Homo sapiens: one gene and its partners. The protein of the gene in region 1 interacts with the protein of each later gene in a pairwise test. Each region holds a gene or a part of one and is shown in the gene's direction. Other genes may lie near its edges. The genes, in order: CNOT1, RXRA, CNOT8 and THRB.

Region 1 (4,766 bases):
AAAATAAACTAGAAAAACTATGAAGGAAAATTATAAGGAAGAAAAGATATATTTACCATCTGTTAAGTGGAAATGGATTATCATACAGGTCTTTAACTTTATATTTAATAGGCTGAGGAGGAGAAGAGGAGGTCTTGGTGTCTCCGAGGTAGTGGAGGTATTAATAGAAGAAAATCTACATTTAATTTTACTCTATGTAGTTCAAATCCTTGTTCAAGGGTCAACTAACTGTACTTGGAAACGCCAGAGTTAGCTAAGGATTCCTGTAGATGGAAATTTAGGAAAACATAGTTCTGGAATTTTCCCCATTCTTGGTTACACTGTAGGTATGTTAATGGCAGCTTATAGATTAGTAATTTATGTGGAGATGGGGTACTACATGTTTTATAATTTTAAAGCTGAAAATAGCCATAGATGTTTCAGTCCCAATCACGTATGGGTTGAGTTGTGATTGACTATGGAATTGAGCATACTTTTCTTCATAGCATCTATCTGGTGTGAAGGAAAGTCATTCTTTAGCATCTAGTTAGTTTTGCAAGGAGCCATGTGCTGTATAGTATGGTTCATAGAAACCAAGTGTTATTTTATCATAGTGTAATTCTGTGCTTCCCATGTCGTATTGACCGGCTAGGTTGAAGAGCTAAAGGAAACGGTGAAAGAAGAATTTATGCCTTGGGTTTCACAGTATCTGGTTATGAAGAGAGTCAGTATTGAGCCAAACTTTCATAGCCTGTATTCAAACTTCCTTGACACGCTGAAGAATCCTGAATTTAACAAGATGGTTCTGAATGAGACCTACAGAAACATTAAAGTAAGAGTTGGTTCTTATATTTCCTTTAATTATTGCTTTGAATTTGGAAATATTTGATTATATAGGTAGGATTTTTGCTATTTTTCCATATATATTGTCAATATTAGGTACCTCTGGAAATTGCTGTAGATTTTGTTTCTTATATGGAACTAAATTTTATGCAGAACTTAAATTTATAGGCATACCCTGTGCCTTTTCTTTGAAAGTAACCACTATTATGAATTGTTTTTGTCATGCCATGCATGATTTTAGAACTTTACCACTGTTATACATAAGCAGCATAGTATTGGTTAGCATATTCTGTATGGTGTCGCCCTCTGTACATCCTTTTCTTTTTTTTTCACTTACTTTTTTTTCTCCCCTGGATATTATTCATGATAATGATAATGCTCTTTGCTGTAGCCCCCTTTTTTTTTTTTTTTCAATTTTTTTGAGATGTGGTCTCACTCTGTTGCTTAGGCTGGAGTGCAGTGGCACGATCTCGGCTCACTGCAGCCTCCACCTCCCAGGTTCAAGCAGTTCTCTTACTTCAGCCTCCCGAGTAGCTGGGATTATAGTTGTACCGCCATGCCCAGCTAATTTTTATATTTTTAGTAGAGACGGGGTTTAATCATATTGGCCAGGCTGGTCCCGAACTCCTGACCTTAGGTGATCCACCCTCCTCGGCCTCCCAGAGTTCTGGGATTACAGGCCTGAGCCACTGTGCCCGGCCAGTCCTCTTTTTTAAAAAACAGAAAAATATAGTCTTGTAGAAAACCATTGTATGTATTTGTATTGCTGCTGGGCATTTGTGTTGTTAATCACTTAAACTATTATAAACAATGCTGTCCTGAATGTTTTCGTTTGTATCTTGTAGTATTCAAGTGCAAGATATCTTTAGACTCTAAATCTGTTTGTGGAATAGCTGTTGTCTAGGAGTCTGTGCAGTTTAAGGTCAAATTCTACTGAGCTGAGGCTTATTCAACAAAATTCAAGTATTTTAATTTCTAAACCATCATTTATTTCTTAGGAGGAAAAACTTCTAGAACCAGCATACAGCTGTGGTCATTCTTTGCTCAATAACTTGGGTCATTGGCTTAGGAACCAGCACTATATTTAAACCTGTGGATGGGAATATTCCCCATTCTTGGTTACGCTGTAGTGCAAAAGAATTCCTGGCTCTCTGTTGCACAGCTGACTTGTGCCATTCTGCTGTTGCTGTATAGAGTTAAGGAACATGGCTCTATTTCGTTTTTATTATCTGATAGCAAGGGTGGTTGGGATACATAAAAGTTTCCACATACTCTGTAGCAAAGTTTCAAGACCATGTTTTTTAAACAGAAGTTTAAATATAGCCCTAAGTCAAGAGGTACCACAGAGTAGATGGGTATATACATGTGTGCATACCTGCAGCCAAAACACTCTCCTATGTTAGTTCTGCCCCCCCTTAGAAAAACAGTAACCGGAGAATCAGTTAAATGGTTTGGGTTTTTTAGAAATTTGAAAAGAAGTATATAAACAGTATTATACTATATCTCAGAAAGTTATCTTGGTTGGCTGCAGAGATTTGTTAATGACCTGGGTATACTGAAGATTGCAATAGGAGGCTAATTTGATTATATTCCTTTGTATGCTTGCTGCCTTTAAGGACTTAAGCATGGCTATCATCCTCATTTAAATTAATTTAGCACTTCAAAATAGCTTTGTAGTTAGGTCTCTGCTTTAAACCTAGCTAAGGTTTTCAGAGTTGAAAATACTTTTCTAGGGGAGGATAGCTGGCACATAACTTTGTGTTCTTTTTGAATTTTGTGCAATGTGTTTGTACCTATTTTGAAAAAATAAAATGTAAAGACTTCTTCAAGGTAAAAATAGCACTGTTGAATCATAAACACAGCAAAATGATATTGAGAATGATATACAGAGTAATTCTACTTTGGGGCCTGTTCTTAGAAATGATGACTTGTCTTTAGGATAGGATAATGGAATTCTCAAATACTTAGTTGAGTTTTCTTTCATAAGCTTATTCTCATATCTTTCTTAATCTTACACTATTTCAGGTGCTCCTGACCTCTGATAAAGCTGCAGCCAATTTCTCAGATCGTTCTTTGCTGAAGAACTTGGGACATTGGCTAGGAATGATCACATTAGCTAAAAACAAACCCATCTTACACACTGTGAGTTTCATCTAAATGTGTAAAAATTGAGAATCTTCAGCACATTATGATTACAAGTATTGGCTGTTTGGAGCTATTTAATGATTATTGGGGTTTTGTAAGATTTTGGCCCACGTTTTGAGTTGTTAACCCCTTTTTGTAAGGCAAGGACTAGACATTATGTTGATTCCTGTTTTGGGGATAAGCTTGGCAAAATACTTTTCTTTGGTTTTGTTATACCATTTTGGGGGGTATATTCCCCGCTTTTGAAAGTATTTTTCTTATTCTAGGACTTGGATGTGAAATCATTGCTGCTAGAGGCTTATGTTAAAGGACAACAAGAATTGCTCTATGTAGTGCCCTTTGTTGCCAAAGTCTTAGAATCTAGCATTCGTAGTGTGGTGAGTAGATTTTAATATTTTATTTATGACTAATTTCTAAGCATTGCTTTGTTTTAGCATGAGGTCAAGAGATTATATTCTTAGTTCTTGTGAGGTAAAGCTAGTTAAGTCTGTTTTCCTCTATGGCACTTGGATTTCCAATTTGAGAGGCTGGGTGAAATAAGAAAGATTATAATGGTTGGCTTTGGTTTTTGGTTTTTTGTTTTGTTTTGTTTTTGAAATGTGATATAGGTGAGAAGGCTAGGGGTTTTGTTATGGCTACAGAGGTATAAGTGTTTAACTATGTTTAACTGTTTTTGGTTATTTTTTAATCCTTGTTTTTTGTTTTTTATTTGTTTGACTCCCCCCTACCCCCTTATGTTGTATTGAATTGTTTTAAATAATCCAAATTAAAGGGCACATTTTGGGCCAGCTTAACATAATAGCTTTTCTTTAGGTTTTTAGGCCACCAAACCCTTGGACAATGGCAATTATGAATGTATTAGCTGAGCTACATCAGGAGCATGACTTAAAGGTAATTTACTGCTTCCTTGTCCTCTGGAACATTCTTTGCCTTCACATTATTAAAACTTACAGTGAAGGCAGGGTATTTCGGGGGAAGTACTATAATAACTGAAAGTAGAGTATATTATGAGTAAAACTAAAGTTTTCTTTTAAAAATTCTAATCCAACTCTGGAACTGTGCAGTTAAACTTGAAGTTTGAAATCGAGGTTCTCTGCAAGAACCTTGCATTAGACATCAATGAGCTAAAACCTGGAAACCTCCTAAAGGATAAAGATCGCCTGAAGAATTTAGATGAGCAACTCTCTGCTCCAAAGAAAGATGTCAAGCAGCCAGAAGAACTCCCTCCCATCACAACCACAAGTAAGTGTGCTAATTAGTCAAGGAAGGCTTCTGTTAGCTAGGATACTATCTTAAATGGTACTTGTCCATGTATATCGCAAACTATAATTTCCCACATAATGTAGTGGTGAAACTTTGTATACGTTTTGGTGAGCCTTCTAATTATCAAGCAGAAGTAATGACTAGGCCTTGTGTTACCATCTTAGATTCCATCCTGACAGTTCATGCATATTATTAACTAAATGTGATTTAATCAGTTGCCTCTCATACCCCAGCTAGGCCAGGTTATCTCCTTTGTTGTGTGAAGTCCCAGAAATAACTGCATACTATGATGGCCTGTTAACCCCTCAAATCTGGGTATGGCCAGACCTGCTAGATCTGCCAAGGGAATGGGACTGTTTTATCTACATGAAGAAGATGGGAGAAGGGTATGGGAGTGTTGAATGATTGGGAGTTGTGGTTAGAATAAATTGAGCTTTTCTTTCTTTCTCAGTCCTCAGCAGCTGAGAATCCCCAGATAAACCTAGGAACAGGCTAGGTTGAAAACATACATTTATAATATAGACTAAGTTTATAGG
Region 2 (4,766 bases), on another chromosome or scaffold:
GAAGTCCAGAGCAGTCGAAGGTCCATTTAAGCGGCTACTTTTCTAAGCCCTTTTGTCAACACAGCCTAATCCCTCCTCGGGGTGAGTGGTGGTGGAGGGCCTGGCTTGTCTTGGCCCGGCTGGCCGACCGGTCAGACCTGGAGCTGCTGGGGAGACTCGGCCACCCCTTACAGCTGCCCAGCCGCTTTTGGGGTCTGGGGTAGAGAGGGCTTCCTCCTCCCAGCATTCACTACCGCTGGGCTTGGTGGGCAGGGAGAGGATCCCAGTCGGTGTCCACCGAGCCGCTCAGTGAGGGCAGGGATGAGTGCAGCGTCCAGATCTGGAAGGAAAGCAAGGCCGAGGGACTCGCCAGAGGCAGCCCCAGCTTCCTGGCCCTGCTGCCCGGGGCTGGCCGCGCTCCCACGCCTGCCGGGGAGAAGGCCCCCGCTGGCCTTATCCTGAATGGTGGGACTCAGGCGGAGTCCACAGAGTCCAAAGGTCTCAGACCACACCAGACCCCATGCGCCTGTGGAGAGACCCGGTGGCAAAGCTGTAGGCCCGCTGACCACTCTTGGAGTTGGGGCACTTGGGGGCCTGGGTGAGCTTGCAGCCTGTGTGAGGGGCTTCTGGTAACATCAGAGCCCTTGGGACCCAAAATAGAGCACATTCCGGGGCCTCCCGAAATAACAGGGTCATGTGACTCTCAGGAGGCTGGGCTTGGAGTCCCGCTCGGGCCTGACGAGGGCGTCTTTTAGCGCGGGCGCTGCCCGACGGCAGGGTGTTTGTTTTGGTAAACTCTGGAGGGGCCCTGTTTGTTGACTGGGGAGGTGTCAGGGAGAGAAAAATGGCCCAGTCCGATGGTGGCCCTGGCTTGCTAGCCTCCAACCTTGCCTAGGGCTGGCTGCTGGGCCTGGACCCGAGCATGCAGCTGTGACCCTCTGCCCAGATGTGGATGGGACGAGCTGGGCCCCTAGGAAGGGCTGGTGGGGGGCGGGTGCTCTGAGTCCCTTGGGGTGTGGGGTGCAGGTTGAGCCGGCAGCCCTGGTCACGCGGGCAGCTGCTGTGACTGGCTCCCGGCTCTGCCAGCACCTGGTGGTTCTTCCAGCTGTGCCTGTCCTTCAGGGCCTGTGGGGGGCTCACCTCCACCAGGAGGCCCCTCTGACTGCCCTCTCTTGGCCCCTGCCCCATCTCCCCCGTGGCTGTGTGGGAGGTCGCTGTCAGTGGTCTTTGTTTCCTCCCCTGGGAAAGGGTGCCTGCAGGATTTGCTGTGGAATTACTGTGGGAACAGGGGGTACTCAGGGGTGTGCCCCTCTGCCCCTGGGGCCTGGTCGTGCATGTGGCAGGGGGCTCTGGCATCAGGAGAGGGTGGGACAGACCTCAGCTGCATGGAAGGTGGTGTGGGGGCGGGGTGAAAGCTTTACAGGTCCACCCAGTGCCAGTGGAGGCTGCCTGGGGAGTTTCCTTTCTTGGGTGACGTTTGGTTTTGCCATGGGTCAAATGTTTCAGGGCTGGGACCTCGAGTGGTGAGCAATGCCTGTCCTCTGGAGAAGAGGGCACAGCTGTCCCAGCAGACACAGGGCAGAGGCCCTCCCCAACCCCCAGCTGGCTCAGGGCTGGGACACTGTCCCTGGGACCCGGGCTTTGCAAGCCAAGACCTGCCCCTCCTTCCCTTCTCTGCCAGGCTTGAGTTTGTGTTTTTTAGCTGGCTTTGGTGGCCAGGGCCTTGGGTTGGCCTGTTAACTGGTGTGTTTTCATAGGAATTGGCCATTTGCTGGGCTAGGGATGAGGCTGGGGTCTAGGGCCACAAGGGCCTGGGGGGCTGGCCTGTGGCTGTTGGGGGCTGGTGTCCATTTGGGGGTCACCTTCCAGACCTTTGTCCTGAGATTCTTAAGCTGATCAGTTTCAGGGTGCTATGGTGTGGGTAGAGGGGTCACCCTCCTCCCCCCTGCACCTTGCCCACCTGCCTGTATGTTTCCATTTTATAGGGTGCAGCTCTGTCTTTCATCCTTCCTTCCTCTCCTCTGCCCCCTCCCATTCAGGGCCTTTGTTACCTGCAGGATGGAGGTGGTGGTGGTTTTGCAGGGATCAGCACCTTCCCAGGAAGAGGTTCTGACAGGTGGTGTCCCATTGCTGGGCGGGTGGTCAGGCCACCTGGGGTTGGGCCTTCTGTCCTCGCTGCCTGCCTGGTCTGCTCTTTGGCCTCTTGGGGCTTTGGCTGTCCATCTGAAAAATGGACATACTCATTGGCTCTTCCAAATGCTGGAGAAGGCAGCCTGGTGTGTTGTAGGCTGGCTGGGAGTTTGGGGAGTCTGTTTGTGGGGCGTTTCCCCTATCCTGTGGCTAGGTCCTCTCTGTGCCTCCTGCCTGGGTCAGGTGGGGCCAGGTTTCCAGCACTGGACCAGAACAGGCCATGATGGTCGCTGGGGGCTGTCAGGTGTAGAGGAACAGACTCAGGAATAGAGGACATCGGGGACACTGAGGTAGCCCTTTCTGTGGATATAGGCCTGCCACAGGAGAGCGCTCGCTGCTGCTGGGTCCTTGGGACCAGCCCCTGTGCCACTCCAGGGACCCTCCTCAGAGTCCCAAGAAGGCAGGTGGGGCGAGGGACCGCGGTTTGCACACCCACCCGAGCCTGGTGCGAGATGTTCTGAGCAGTTGTGCCCCAGCGCCTCACAGACAGGGAAATTGCGCCCTAGAGTTACAAAGCAATTGTCTAGCTCAGCAGCTGAATGAGCGTGAAATGGAGCAGAAAGCAGCTAAGGAAAATTGGCCCGGCCGCTGTGGGGAGAGCGGGTGCGGACCGCGTGCAGGGCTTGGGTGTGTGCACGCTCACTGTTGCACACACACAGAGTCACAGGCTCTCACCTGGCGCTGTTGGCCGCTGGCCCGTGTCCTGGCGTGCCCGTGAGTGAGCCAGGCCTCATGGGGTCCCCCAAGGATCATGGTGCTCCCTGCTGGGTTTGTTGGCCTCCTTTTTTTCTAAATCTCCCCAACTTGTCCAGGACTCACCCTACCCCCACGAAGGTGCCGATGGCTGCAGCGGGTGCCTGCTGCGTGCCAGGGACTTTATTTTTGGGACCTTGTGGAGGTGTCACAGAGACAAGCCCACTTAGTGGATGGGGACACTGAACCCTGGGTGAGGTCTGTGGGCCAGCCTTTGTGTCCCGCTGTGGGGCCTGCTTTTTCTCCGGCACTTGACTGGCGGGGGCCGCCTTGAGCTCCAGCTGGGAGGACCTGTCCCCAGGGTGGGGGCTCTGCTGCCCCTGGTCCTCCTGCCTCTCAGCATCCTCAGAGGCTGCTCACCGACCAGGCTGGGTCTATGCCCCATGCTGGTTCCCAGGAGCCCCATTGCTGGTCTTGGCCCGAGTGAGTGAGGTTTTTGTTCAGTGGGGACCCTGGTGGAGGGCTGAGGTCTCACCATGCCAGCTCTGTGCCCTGGGACTGGGCATCTTGGCCTCTTGTGCTGGTTGAAGGCCCTCTAAGGAGTGGCGACCCCTTGATCCTCACTCCAGGGTTGTCCTTGGCTTGGGGTGGTGGCTAGGAGAAGTCCCCACTCCCAGGTGGAAAGCTGTAGTTGGGTGAGCAGCAGAGGCCCAGCCTGGAACTGTGGCTTGCCCACCTCCTCATGCCACCAGGGCAGCACTGTCTGCAGCAAATTCCTGAGGTACCTGGGGGAGTGGACGGAGTGAGATTGGACCCCCGGGTCCCAGGGCAGGGCAGGGTAGGGGCACAGTTCTTTCTGAGGTCCTAACCCAGCACACGCGGCCCACCCCATGCATGCAGGCGTCCGCCGCAGCCTTCCCAGGGTGACCTGGCAGAGCCTTGACAACCCTGGCTGGGGAGGCGGGGATTGCTGGTGGGCTTGTCCACACGTGGCTTAGGGAGCGCCCGCTGGGTGCTGGCCTGGTCCTGCTGCCTGTGGAGGAGGGGTGGGGGAGGGGTGCCCAGAGGTAGGGACAGCAAGGTCTGGCCTGGAGGGGGTGAAGAGGGTGAGGACGCAAGGGTGGGGTTGCAGGGCTGGAACCAGGAGGGGGTTCACGTGTGAGGTGAGGCTGGGTAGGGCCTGTGTGCCGGGCGTAGGTGCATGGGTGCCCGGAGACTGGGGGATCCCAGTGTGGTGCTCATGGCTGGAATGAGGCCACCAGTGCTGTGCAGAGGGTGGTCTGGAGGCAGCCAGGCAAGGCCTGGAAGGAGGAAGTGACTCTCTCCAGGTGGCTCACTGGTTTCAGGTGGGCCTTGGGGCCCCTGTGAATGGCCTTGCACCCTTGCCCTGGCTGGGCTCCTCAGCATGGCAGCCTGGGAAGGGGGGAGGATTCCTAGCATCTTCCTGGGGGCTTAGGCCAGGTCCCTGGGCTGGCCTGGGGGTCGTCTTTCCCGGGCACGGGTATGGGTGAGGCACCTTTTCCCTGGCCCTGGCTCCGGCCCCCCCTGCACTCCCCAGGCTCTGGATGAAGTAGGGGGCAGGCCGTCCAGGGGGAGTAGAGCAGCCGGGCCTCTTGGGGCCGGATCAGGGATGCTGAGACCATGGAGGGGACCAGACTTTGGGGCTGGGGAGTGGGACATTCAGGGGTCCTTCAGGGGATCAGAGCCTCTCAGGGTCTCTGTGTGAGAAGTTGCCACGGGGTCTGTCCTGCACAGCCCACATCTGTCTTTGATGATAGGCTTCAGCCCCAGCTCCTCTTCCAGGCACTGCCTGCTGGGGTGAGGGATGCCGGGAAGCCCTTGGTCACAGTCCTACCTCTGGGGTGACCCAGAGGCCGTGCCTGGCCTCCCCGCACCTCTGTTGG
Region 3 (4,766 bases), on another chromosome or scaffold:
GCTTTTTAAAAACCAATTCTCTTTTAAATGGAAGTTAAAGGCGTCTTTTGGTTGTGTGGGGTTTTTTGTTGTTGTTGCTTTTGCTTTTACGGAAACATCTCTCAAAAACTCAGGAGTGATACACCCACTTCCTCCAAAGTAGTTATGGTTATGTTTGAAATGACACCAAAAATGAAGGGTATTATTTCAGTTAGGGAAATAAGGAAGTACCACCGATTTAACATTATATGGGTATAGAAAATGGTTTTAAGGCCTTTTGCAGGGGAGAAATCTTAAGCAAGTTTAGGAATCTAAAATTCTGAGTCGAAACATTTTCTGAATTATGGTCAGATAGTGTAATTTACTCCACATTCATTCTGAACTTCTCTCTTTTCCTGATCTTTATTGTTCTTTTGCAAGCCTGTAATAGAACAAAAACAAGAGAAGAAATTTATTCTGGCTTTAAGAAGTTTCTACTATGTTTTTTGGGGGAGATGCCACATAGTCTACTTAAGTTTAATTACTGTAATTACAGAGAAAAATCTGTGGAAGTATAGGATACCTTGAATAAATGGAATCTTCAAGGTTTGCTGGCAAACCAACAGTTTGATTTCTCAGAAGTTTCTTAGAGAAATGATGCCAGTTTTGTTTTGCTCCAGATTCTCATTGTTGCATCTGCCAATCTTGAAAATAGGAAGCAAAGATTTTCCTTGCTCTGTCCCTTGGGAACCACTTACATTCGTTTTACTGTTTCTAGGAAATTTTCTTTAAATATATACATTAGAGCCCACTATTGTGTTGTGGATCCATGCAGTGGGCTTGCCTTAGAAGTAAGTGCCTTTATGATAAGCTCTTTTTTGTTTGTTTGTTTGTTTTTGAGACGGAGTCTCGCTCTGTCGCCCAGGCTGGAGTGCGGTGGCGCGATCTTGGCTCACTGCAACCTCTGCCTCCTGGGTTCAAGCGATTCTGCTGCCTCAGCCTCCCGAGTAGCTGGGACTGCAGGCGCGTGCCACCACAGCCAGCCAACGTTTTGTATTTTTAGTAGAGACGGAGTTTCACCGTGTTAGCCAGGATGGTCTCTATCTCCTGACCTTGTGATCCGCCCGCCTCGGCCTTCCAAAGTGCTGAGATTATAGGCGTGAGCCACCATGCCCGGCTTTTTTGTATTTTTATAACCAGGCCTTGTACGTTGTTTGCCATAATAATAACAGCATTCGTCAGAGACCCAATCATGTTGAATTTTTTTCTCACAGAATACTTTCCCCTCCCTGATTTTTCTCCTGGAAAATACACCATGAATCATTCTGTTTCTGGTTGAATGATTTACACCAGCCATCTTTAGTCCTACTGTTGAATTGCTGCATAGTTTCTTTTTAATTTATGTGTTTAAAAGTAAATACTGGCCGGTGGATCACAAGGTCAGGGGTTCAAGACTAGCCTGACCAATATGGTGAAACCCCATCTCTACTAAAATACAAAAAATAGCTGGGCGTGGTGGCGTGCACCTATAGTCCCAGCTACTTGGGTGGCTGAGGCAGGAGAATTGCTTGCACCCAGGAGGCAAAGGTTGCAGTGAGCCAAGAGTGCACCACTGCACTCTAGCCTGGGCGACAGAGCAAGACTCCATCTCAAAAAAAAAAAAGTAAATACTAACTAAAATTCTGATTTGCATTGTGGTTTTTAGGGTTCAGATTAGCAAGTGGGATTGTTTTTTAGCACTTAAATCCCTCACTTCATGCTCTGTTTGCACAAATCTAAAGAGGCACTGGTATGTCTAAAGAGGCACTGGTATTGTTTATTACCTCTAGTTGTATTTGACTTTGGGATTGTAGAGAAAAATAATTTCCTTTTGTGGGATGGGGGAAGAATCCCATGCCAGTATTCATCATATGGGTACAAAGGCTTGAGTGTGAGAGTTTAGGTCCACATTCTTTCAGGTTTTCAGAGATCTCAGGTACATTGAAAATGGCTAAGATGATTCCTGTAGGACTGTTTCCATGATTTGGTCTCTGTGCAAAGTGATGTGAAAGTCATGGATAAGGGCATATTTGTGGTAACGGAATTATTTTGGTCTAGTCTACAGAGAGCTGAAAAACTAGGGTAGTGGTTTCACTTCTGTGGCAGAGGACTGCTGGGCAGAAGTTTCAATAACTTCAGTTTCTTCAAGAAAGAACTGTGTGTGTGTGCGTGTGTGCATGTGTGTGTGTGTGTTGACAAAGTTTCTCCATCATATAAAATGGAGAATAAATATAATCTTAATGTTTTAAACTAATGAAGTGATTGTAAAATATTATTTTGATGTCTTTGTTGTGTTGACATCTTATGTGTGTGTAAACTTACATGATTTTAAAATGTTTTACAATCTAGATCAGACCAAACATTGTCTGGCTTGCACTGTAAAACTAGTTAGCTGAAGACGACTTCTCAGGTTTCTTCAGGATGCCTGCAGCACTTGTGGAGAATAGCCAGGTTATCTGTGAAGTGTGGGCCAGTAATCTAGAAGAAGAGATGAGGAAGATCCGAGAAATCGTGCTCAGTTACAGTTATATTGCCATGGTAAGGAGCTCTACTCTGACTCACCTTCTTTGTCACTTTTAAAGTTGGGGTCTTGCTCTGTTGCCCAGGCTGGAGTGCGGTGGCTATTCACAGATGCAATCATAGCTCACTGCAGCCTTGAACTCCTGGGCTCAAGCAGTCCTCCCACCTCACCTTTCCAGGTTGCTGGGACTGCAGGCTCATACCACTATGCCCAGCTTGACTCACCTTCTTATATGGATGGGTTTAGGGAATGTTTAATTTGAGATTTTGAAAAGAATGGGTATGTTCCACTAAAGCCATTGTAAATTAAACCGGATGGAAGGTTGTGTTGCTTCATGAAATATCAAGGTAGCCAGTGTCTCTGAGAAGGATGTAACCTCTAGTATCTTAGATTTTTTATAACATTATTCTGTTTGAAAGTCTTTAAAGCAGAAGTTACGTCATCCCCTAGGGCCCAGCTGTTCCACAGATATGTTGGATTTGACTATACGATGTTAAGAATTTTAAAAATTTATTGCCAGCATTTAAAAGTCAATAGAACTCACTTGAATTCCAGATTTCTGGCATCTCTGAAAAAAAAAAATAGGAAGATCTGGCAATATCTGTTATCCACTCCTGCCTGACACTGGCTGGAGAGAGAGATGAGTATTGTGGTAATATTAAGGGCCTCCTGTAGACGGGCATGTGCTCTCTGTTTTACTCCAGTCCCGATTACTTGTACTATTTTCATACCTAGCTGACTTTACTCCTTTACATTAGCTGCTTGGAGTTTGTGACTCCTGCTTTAGAAATTATAGAGTTGGCCGGGCGCGGTGGCTCACGCCTGTAATCCCAGCACTTTGGGAGGCCGAGACGGGCGGATCACGAGGTCAGGAGATTGAGACCATCCTGGCTAACACGGTGAAACCCTGCCTCTACTAAAAATACAAAAAATTAGCCGGGCATGGTGGTGGGCGCCTGTAGTCCCAGCTACTCGGGAGGCTGAGGCAGAGAATGCGTGAACCCGGGAGGCAGAGCTTGCAGTGAGCCGAGATCGTGCCACTGCACTCCAGCTTGGGGGACAGAGCGAGACTCCGTCCCAAAAAAAAAAAAGAAATTACAGAGTTAAGTCTTTAGCTTGGTATTCAGAGCTCCTTCCAGTCTTTTCACTCAAGCTAAGCCTGTCTCTTTATATTTTTTTCTGAATGGCTGTTTCACTTCCCTGTATTTGTATTTTTATTCATATATTGTTCTCTACCTAGAATGTTCTTAATTGACTGCATATCTACCTGTAGTTACTCAACTCTTTCTATTGACATTCTGCTTATTTAGGATCAAGTTGTTGTGCAAAGCTTCATGATTTTAGTGCTTCTTCAGTAGATACCAACAAGATCAGTATTTTAAGATAGGATTTTGGCTGGGTGTGTTGGCTGATGCCTGTAATCTGTGCACTTTGGGAGGCCGAGGCAGGTGGATCACTTGAGACCAGCCTGGGCAACATGGTGAAACCCCATCTCTACAAAAAAATACAATAATTAACTGGGTGTGGTGGTGTGCACCTGTAGTTCCAGCTACTTAGGGAGGCTGAGGTGGGAGGATTGATTGCACCTGTGAGGTTGAGGCTGTAGTGAGCTGTGATTGTGCCACTGCCCTCCAGCCTGGGTGACAGAGACAGACCAACCCTATCTCAAAAAAACACAAAAAGAATTTTGTGCCCAAGTTTGGGGCTTGCCACATAACTTTTATAAATGGAGGTAAAATTTTATTTATGAATTACCAATTCAGCATCCACTGTTTTGTGAAACCTTGTGATGAGAGACTTTTTCCTTTTCCAGGACACAGAATTTCCAGGTGTTGTGGTGCGACCAATTGGTGAATTTCGTAGTTCCATAGATTACCAATATCAGCTTCTGCGGTGCAATGTTGACCTTTTAAAAATTATCCAGCTGGGCCTTACATTCACAAATGAGAAGGGAGAGTATCCTTCTGGAATCAATACTTGGCAGTTCAATTTCAAATTTAACCTTACGTAAGTGATTTCTAAATAAATGCGTTAATTTTAAGTTTTGTTTTCACTGAATCCAGGTGGGTGTTGGATAGAGCGGTCAAGCAGAGGACGGAACAGGGAATCTCAGCAAGTGAAGTCCTGCTTAAAGAACTGCAGCAGCTCAACAATGAAAAGATAAACAACCCAACTAAAAATGTGCAAAAGATAGACTTTTCTTGAAAGATAATGTACAGATGGCCAGTAAGCACATGAAAAGATGCTC
Region 4 (5,464 bases), on another chromosome or scaffold:
TGCCTTATCCTGGAAATATTGGGGAAAATAAGCCATATCAGTGAGATTTACCTAAAAACAAAGGAAGGAAAGTCACTATGGAAACCAAGTAGATGCTTTTTGTAAGTTTGGTGGAGCATAACTGGCCCAGAAGTCTGGGTGCCTGAGTTCTAGTTCGTGCTCTGTCAACTGGTAGATTTGTAATTCTAGGTCTTGGTTTTCTTACCTGGTGAATAAGTCATGATCTCTAAAACCCTTCCTGCCCTTAATATTGTCTGAATTTCAAGGGGAAAAAAAAAATCTGGTTCCTTTAATTATTTTTTTTTAACACTTAAATTCCTAACTTTATTAGACAAGAAGTATGGCCCACTTAACAGTTAAGGAACGTAAATTTGTTATTGGCTCGAAATAATAATTTGACACAATACTAGTCAACCATTTAGAGGCCTTGGAAAAAGAAGAGGAACAGCACTGAAAATTCCAAGTATGATTGGAAATTATCTGGGAGCGGGGAATTAAATATTCAATGCATGAAAGCAATTGTACTGGCTTCTGGGAAAAAGGAAACAAGAACATTGCTATGGAACTTGTTACCCAGAGAAAGGAAGTGAAAAGATTTACAATTATAAGCACGAAATTCATTGGCAGATTACCTGCTTTATCTACAGACAGATTGTTTTGGGGTTTGGTTTTGTCTAGGCAGCCTCTGGCCAGGCTCCTTAATTGCTTGCTCTGCTAATATTTCAGCTTCCTCTCTTGACTCCTTGAGGAACCAACCGCTCTTTGGAAGACAAACACTTAGCCACCTCTGTGCTCCAGGGTAACCCTGAGAAGCTCTGCTGTCTGGGGCAAGCTTTCTTTCCAAAGGGAATGAGAGGAAGGCAAGCAGGCAGGGTCCTGCAGCGTCAGGCCTTCTGGGGAAAGTTTCCTCATTTTGTTTGACAGGGTCCTCAGTACATCAGACACCCAGATTTGAATATAAGTTCAGAGCCTGATCTCAAGCTAAATCAGAATGCTTTGGGGACTAACCATGATCGAGAATTGGCCAAATAGTATGGCATATAAACAGCCATCCAGCCAGCCGCAAGTAAAGGAACGTTTGATCCTTGGCACCTTAAATGATTGATTGCCTTCAATAGGCAAACTGCTGGTCTGGAAATCTCGTTGAAGGCTGAATACTTCATGCGGAGTAGGACAAGCCTTAGCCCACCTTCAGGTTGAAAGGAAAGGCCATAGGACTCAAAAGATAATGACTCTGAAACTAAACTCCTTCCTTCTGAAGCTGACAGAGGTACTTAGTGCATCTCAAGACTCCATCTCATAAAACTCATTTGTGAGGGATTTGCTCTAGATTTTTCTAAACATTTTTTCATCTATTGTCCAGACTTGCAAATCCAGTGTGGACCTGATGGAGATACCCTTCACACCTGCGCTCCCACCCCCTCGGCAGGGAGACGTCTCAGTAGAGGAGAACACACCCATTATGCTGGGATTTGTATTTATAAATCACTTCCCTTTTAGGGATGAGCGGTGTGGGGCGTGTGTGCGTGTGAGTGTATGCGCGTGCGTGTGTGACCCTCAAGTGTACTTTGCTCAATTTAGACGTGCAGTATTTCCAGAAACAATGAAAAAAGTAAGATGTTTTCTTCTTTATGATTCTGCTCAAAACACCACGTGCCGCCTCAGAGCTTTTTCTAGAGCCTCGGTCCTCAATGACGCGCTTGACCTGTTGATGCCTCAGCCCAGCGAAGCCCCTCACCTGTGCCCCGGGCGACAGCTCTTCAGTGTGCAGTGCAGGCCTGGGGTGGACTGCCAGGCCTTCGCTCTGTGCCAGCAACGCCGTTCTTGTTGCTCCTCCATGAACAGGGGTACAAGCCCTGGCCCCTCCTCGACACTAAGCCCCCCACAGACTCAGCCTCCAAGGAACCGCTGAGCACCCTTGAAGCATGTCATTGTCAGTGATACCTTTTTATTCTATGGAACTCTAACCTATTCGTGTCATATTGACCTTTTGCTGCATGAGTCATAAATTATGAAATCAGTCTTACAGTTTTTGAAATGTAGCCAGCATTTGTAAGGCTAAACCTTTTTCATGAACTGAATTTAAGTGAATAACCAAGCCACAGTTCCTCCTCAAATGGAGAGTGATGATCGACATTTGAATCTCTTTGCCCTTTCCAACGGCTATGGCATCAGGTTCTAAAATAAGCTCGTAATTTTTCCTGTTATTTTAATAATATGGAAATATTAGCATAGTGTTTCTTTTGATAGTGATAGACTATAATCCATATTTAAATTTTATAGAGAAGAAATTTTATTGTACTGTGATGTAGATATTTATTATCCAGGTAAGGATTTGCCCGGTGTGTATTTTTTACAATTGAGACATTTTACTTTAATCTTTAAAAAAAATGCATTAAAAACACACTCAAAAAAAAAAAAAAAAAAAAAAAAAAAAAACCAGACTGGGGGAAAAAAGGTTTGGCCTTATCACAGAATTTTTACTGTGCTGTATAAATGTTTGCAAATGCGAAAAGTGTGCATTTATAGTGTGTTTCCACATTAATTAATGCCGCCTTCAAGAGCAATATTGTGCAGGTAAAACGCTGTTTGTGGCTTTCTGTTGCACAGTTAAAGCTGACCCACCCTATGCACAAGACAATCAAATATAAATCTGTCCTCCTCAGGATGCAGATAATACTCATGTAAATTATGGAGCACAATGTAAGACAAAAGGAGACACTTTACATATGTATTGTTGATACAGAAATTATCAGGGCATGAATGAGCTGATGTGACATTATGCCACTTCTTTCTTTTGGTTCTCCCTTATTAACTTGGCATTTTTAATTTGACCATAGAGCCAAATTAGTTCTCCATGCTTTCTTCGTAGAAAATCCTTTTTTTTCCCATAATGTTTTCATGCCCTGAGAATCAGAAAAATACTACAGAATAGAAAAAGATTTACAGTCATTGGAAGATTTGTGTTTTGCAAACAGTGTTAAGTGATATTGCTAGATGGTGATATTTTTTTCAGCCTAAAACTCTGTTGAAATCTGTGATCAAAATGTTTTAAACTATCCAAAAAAAATTTGTATATTTGGGAAAAATGGATTTTTACATAGCTTTTGTATGCAGATATAAAACTGTAATTATGAATATAGTGGGCGTAGATAAACTCATAAGCTTAAATTCTAAAAAAGAAAAAGCTTATAACAGATATATTTTCCTGTCTCTTTCTTTAAATATTATTATTTTCTACATAGGCAAAGAGTTGCCTGCTCTTCTCACTTCAGCTGCTGCCAAAAGACGGAACCACGGATGTAAGGACATTTATTTCATAAATAAACATCTACTAGAATAAGCAAATTTACTTGAGAAGAAACTATGGAGGGAGAGAAGAAACTAAGTAAAATGCTGATGGGGGGTTACCTCTTTGGAAGGGGCCACAAAGATGAAGGGAGGAGAGAGGTGAAGTTTTGCAGCTCAAGGACAACATTCATCTTCTCATCTCAAATTATTCAGGAATATTACTAATGGAATTATGTTAACATCAGCTGCCAACATATATCTCAATCTCTGTTGCCCTGAACACATGTTAATTGAGATTCTTTCTATGACAAGTAACAAAAAGCTAACTCAAACTGGCTTAAGCAGAAAGCTAATTATTGACTTTAATATCTGGGATCTAGGGTATTGCATACCAAAGCTTCAGGCATGGCTGGATCTGGGTGCACTTACTCAGTATTCTCAGGAAGCTCCTTTTTTTGTCATTCATGTAGACTTAACATTCACATGGCCTTTCACCTTACGGTGGCCTCCAATAGCTCCAGGATGAGCTTTACAGCTCCAAATATAGTGAAAGGAGAATTTCTTTTCTCCAACAATTCTAATGAAAATTCTGGCCTAATTCTCACTGGCCCAAGTTCAGTCATGTGCCCATTCCTGAGCCAATCACTGTGGTGAGGAAAACAGATGCATAACCAACCTTATCCTCAGGAATCCTGGAACTGGGTGAGGGGAAAGAGGGACAGTCAGCTTCATCTAAACTATGGACTGAGAGTTGAGGCAAGATGATTCCTGAAAGAAAATTCTAAGTCTTGCTGCTATAAGTGGAAGAGAATGGTGGGCAAGCAAAAGCAACCAGTGCCCACACCAAAGGTAAATCTAAAACAACATCCCATTTCAGTACAGCAAGCGGTTCTCCTTCACACAGAGGAAGCTCATCTCCAAGTTTTTATTTGGCCAGGACATGAACCAAATAAACACCTTCCAAAGAAAGTGTTTGATCGCATTCTTCCTGGTTCGTGAAAACACCAGTTCAGGTAAGATGGGGCAAGCATCATTATTTCCCTAGGCTAGATCAGTTCAGAGTACTATTTTCTGAGTTTTTCCACTCTATATTCAAATGACTAAGATTAACCTTTATATATTTATCTCTTGTCTACATTATGTACCTCCCAACTTCCTCCTAATGAACATATTTCCCTCCTCCAAGAAATTACTGGATTCATTTATTGTGGAGAGCTGGAACATATATATTCCAGCTAGGTACAATTCTTAACCCCTTTACACAGGCAAAGCCAGAAGCTGTTGTCATGTCACAAACCTGGAAAAGTCTAATAATCTATGAAGAGAAGCCAGAGGACAAAGTTGGTTTGCTTCTCCACCCTCAAGATGACAGCTCACTCTGGTTTTTATGTTTAGACACTCAGGGCACCATAGCTTTGTAAATAAGGGGAATTGTCATCAGGTTTATGTACACAAATTCTGACACATTAAATGGTGTCTAAACCAAAGCAAAACTTAGTAGAACTACTGAAATGCAGAATGTTACAGATACCATTTGAGCATGTATCTCAAGAGAATTCACTGACTACTTGATGAAAAGTGCCATGTTATACTCTTTAAAGACAATCTACCTACACCATACACTGATGAAATCATAAATGAAGTCTGTATCTATACAGTGATATTGCCTGGAGGCTATATTAAAATGAGAAGAGAATTGCCTTAGCCTAGGTTCCCCAGAAAGCAAAGTTCATGCTGCAATTTTATTAGGCATTATAGCACCCAAGGAAGGAGTGGAGGCAAAAGTGAATGAGGCATAGAAGAAAAGAGAATAAATATAAAGTGCTTTGCTAAGTTGGCCACACTTAGTACCAAACAAACACAACTGAGTACTCAATTGTGTAAGACCATCTTCTAAGGGGCCATATGAACTAAAGTGATCTGGTGCAGTGGCTCACGCTTGTAACCCCAGCACTTTGGGAGGCCAAGGCGGGTGGATCACAAGGTCAAGAGTTCGAGACCAGCCTGACCAATATGGTGAAACCCTGTCTCTACTAAAAATACAAGAAAAAATTAGCCAGGCATGGTGGTGCGCACCTGTAATCCCAGCCACACGGGAGGCTGAGGCAGGAGAATAGCTTGAACCCAGGAGGTGGAGGTTGCAGTGAGCCGAGATCATGCCACTGCACTCCAG

Evidence for each region.
Region 2: the proteins of CNOT1 (region 1) and RXRA interact in a two-hybrid assay, tested with the Homo sapiens proteins (one study listed by BioGRID and IntAct).
Region 3: the proteins of CNOT1 (region 1) and CNOT8 interact in binary tests that used the Homo sapiens proteins (3 or more experiments, as listed by UniProt).
Region 4: the proteins of CNOT1 (region 1) and THRB interact in a two-hybrid assay, tested with the Homo sapiens proteins (one study listed by IntAct).

The regions. Positions count from the first base shown.
Region 1 is NC_000016.10:58,545,764-58,550,529, reverse strand, and holds part of CNOT1 (CCR4-NOT transcription complex subunit 1), read left to right. Parts: intron 1-631; coding exon 632-811; intron 812-1,896; exon of another isoform or gene 1,897-2,031; intron 2,032-2,847; coding exon 2,848-2,964; intron 2,965-3,233; coding exon 3,234-3,344; intron 3,345-3,780; coding exon 3,781-3,858; intron 3,859-4,031; coding exon 4,032-4,209; intron 4,210-4,766.
Region 2 is NC_000009.12:134,328,619-134,333,384, forward strand, and holds part of RXRA (retinoic acid receptor RXR-alpha), read left to right. Parts: intron 1-4,766. UniProt on the Homo sapiens protein: Receptor for retinoic acid that acts as a transcription factor.
Region 3 is NC_000005.10:154,860,861-154,865,626, forward strand, and holds part of CNOT8 (CCR4-NOT transcription complex subunit 8), read left to right. Parts: exon of another isoform or gene 1-809; intron 810-2,346; 5' UTR 2,347-2,418; coding exon 2,419-2,535; intron 2,536-4,331; coding exon 4,332-4,525; intron 4,526-4,766. UniProt on the Homo sapiens protein: Has 3'-5' poly(A) exoribonuclease activity for synthetic poly(A) RNA substrate. Its function seems to be partially redundant with that of CNOT7.
Region 4 is NC_000003.12:24,115,949-24,121,412, reverse strand, and holds the end of THRB (thyroid hormone receptor beta), read left to right. Parts: 3' UTR 1-4,260; downstream 4,261-5,464.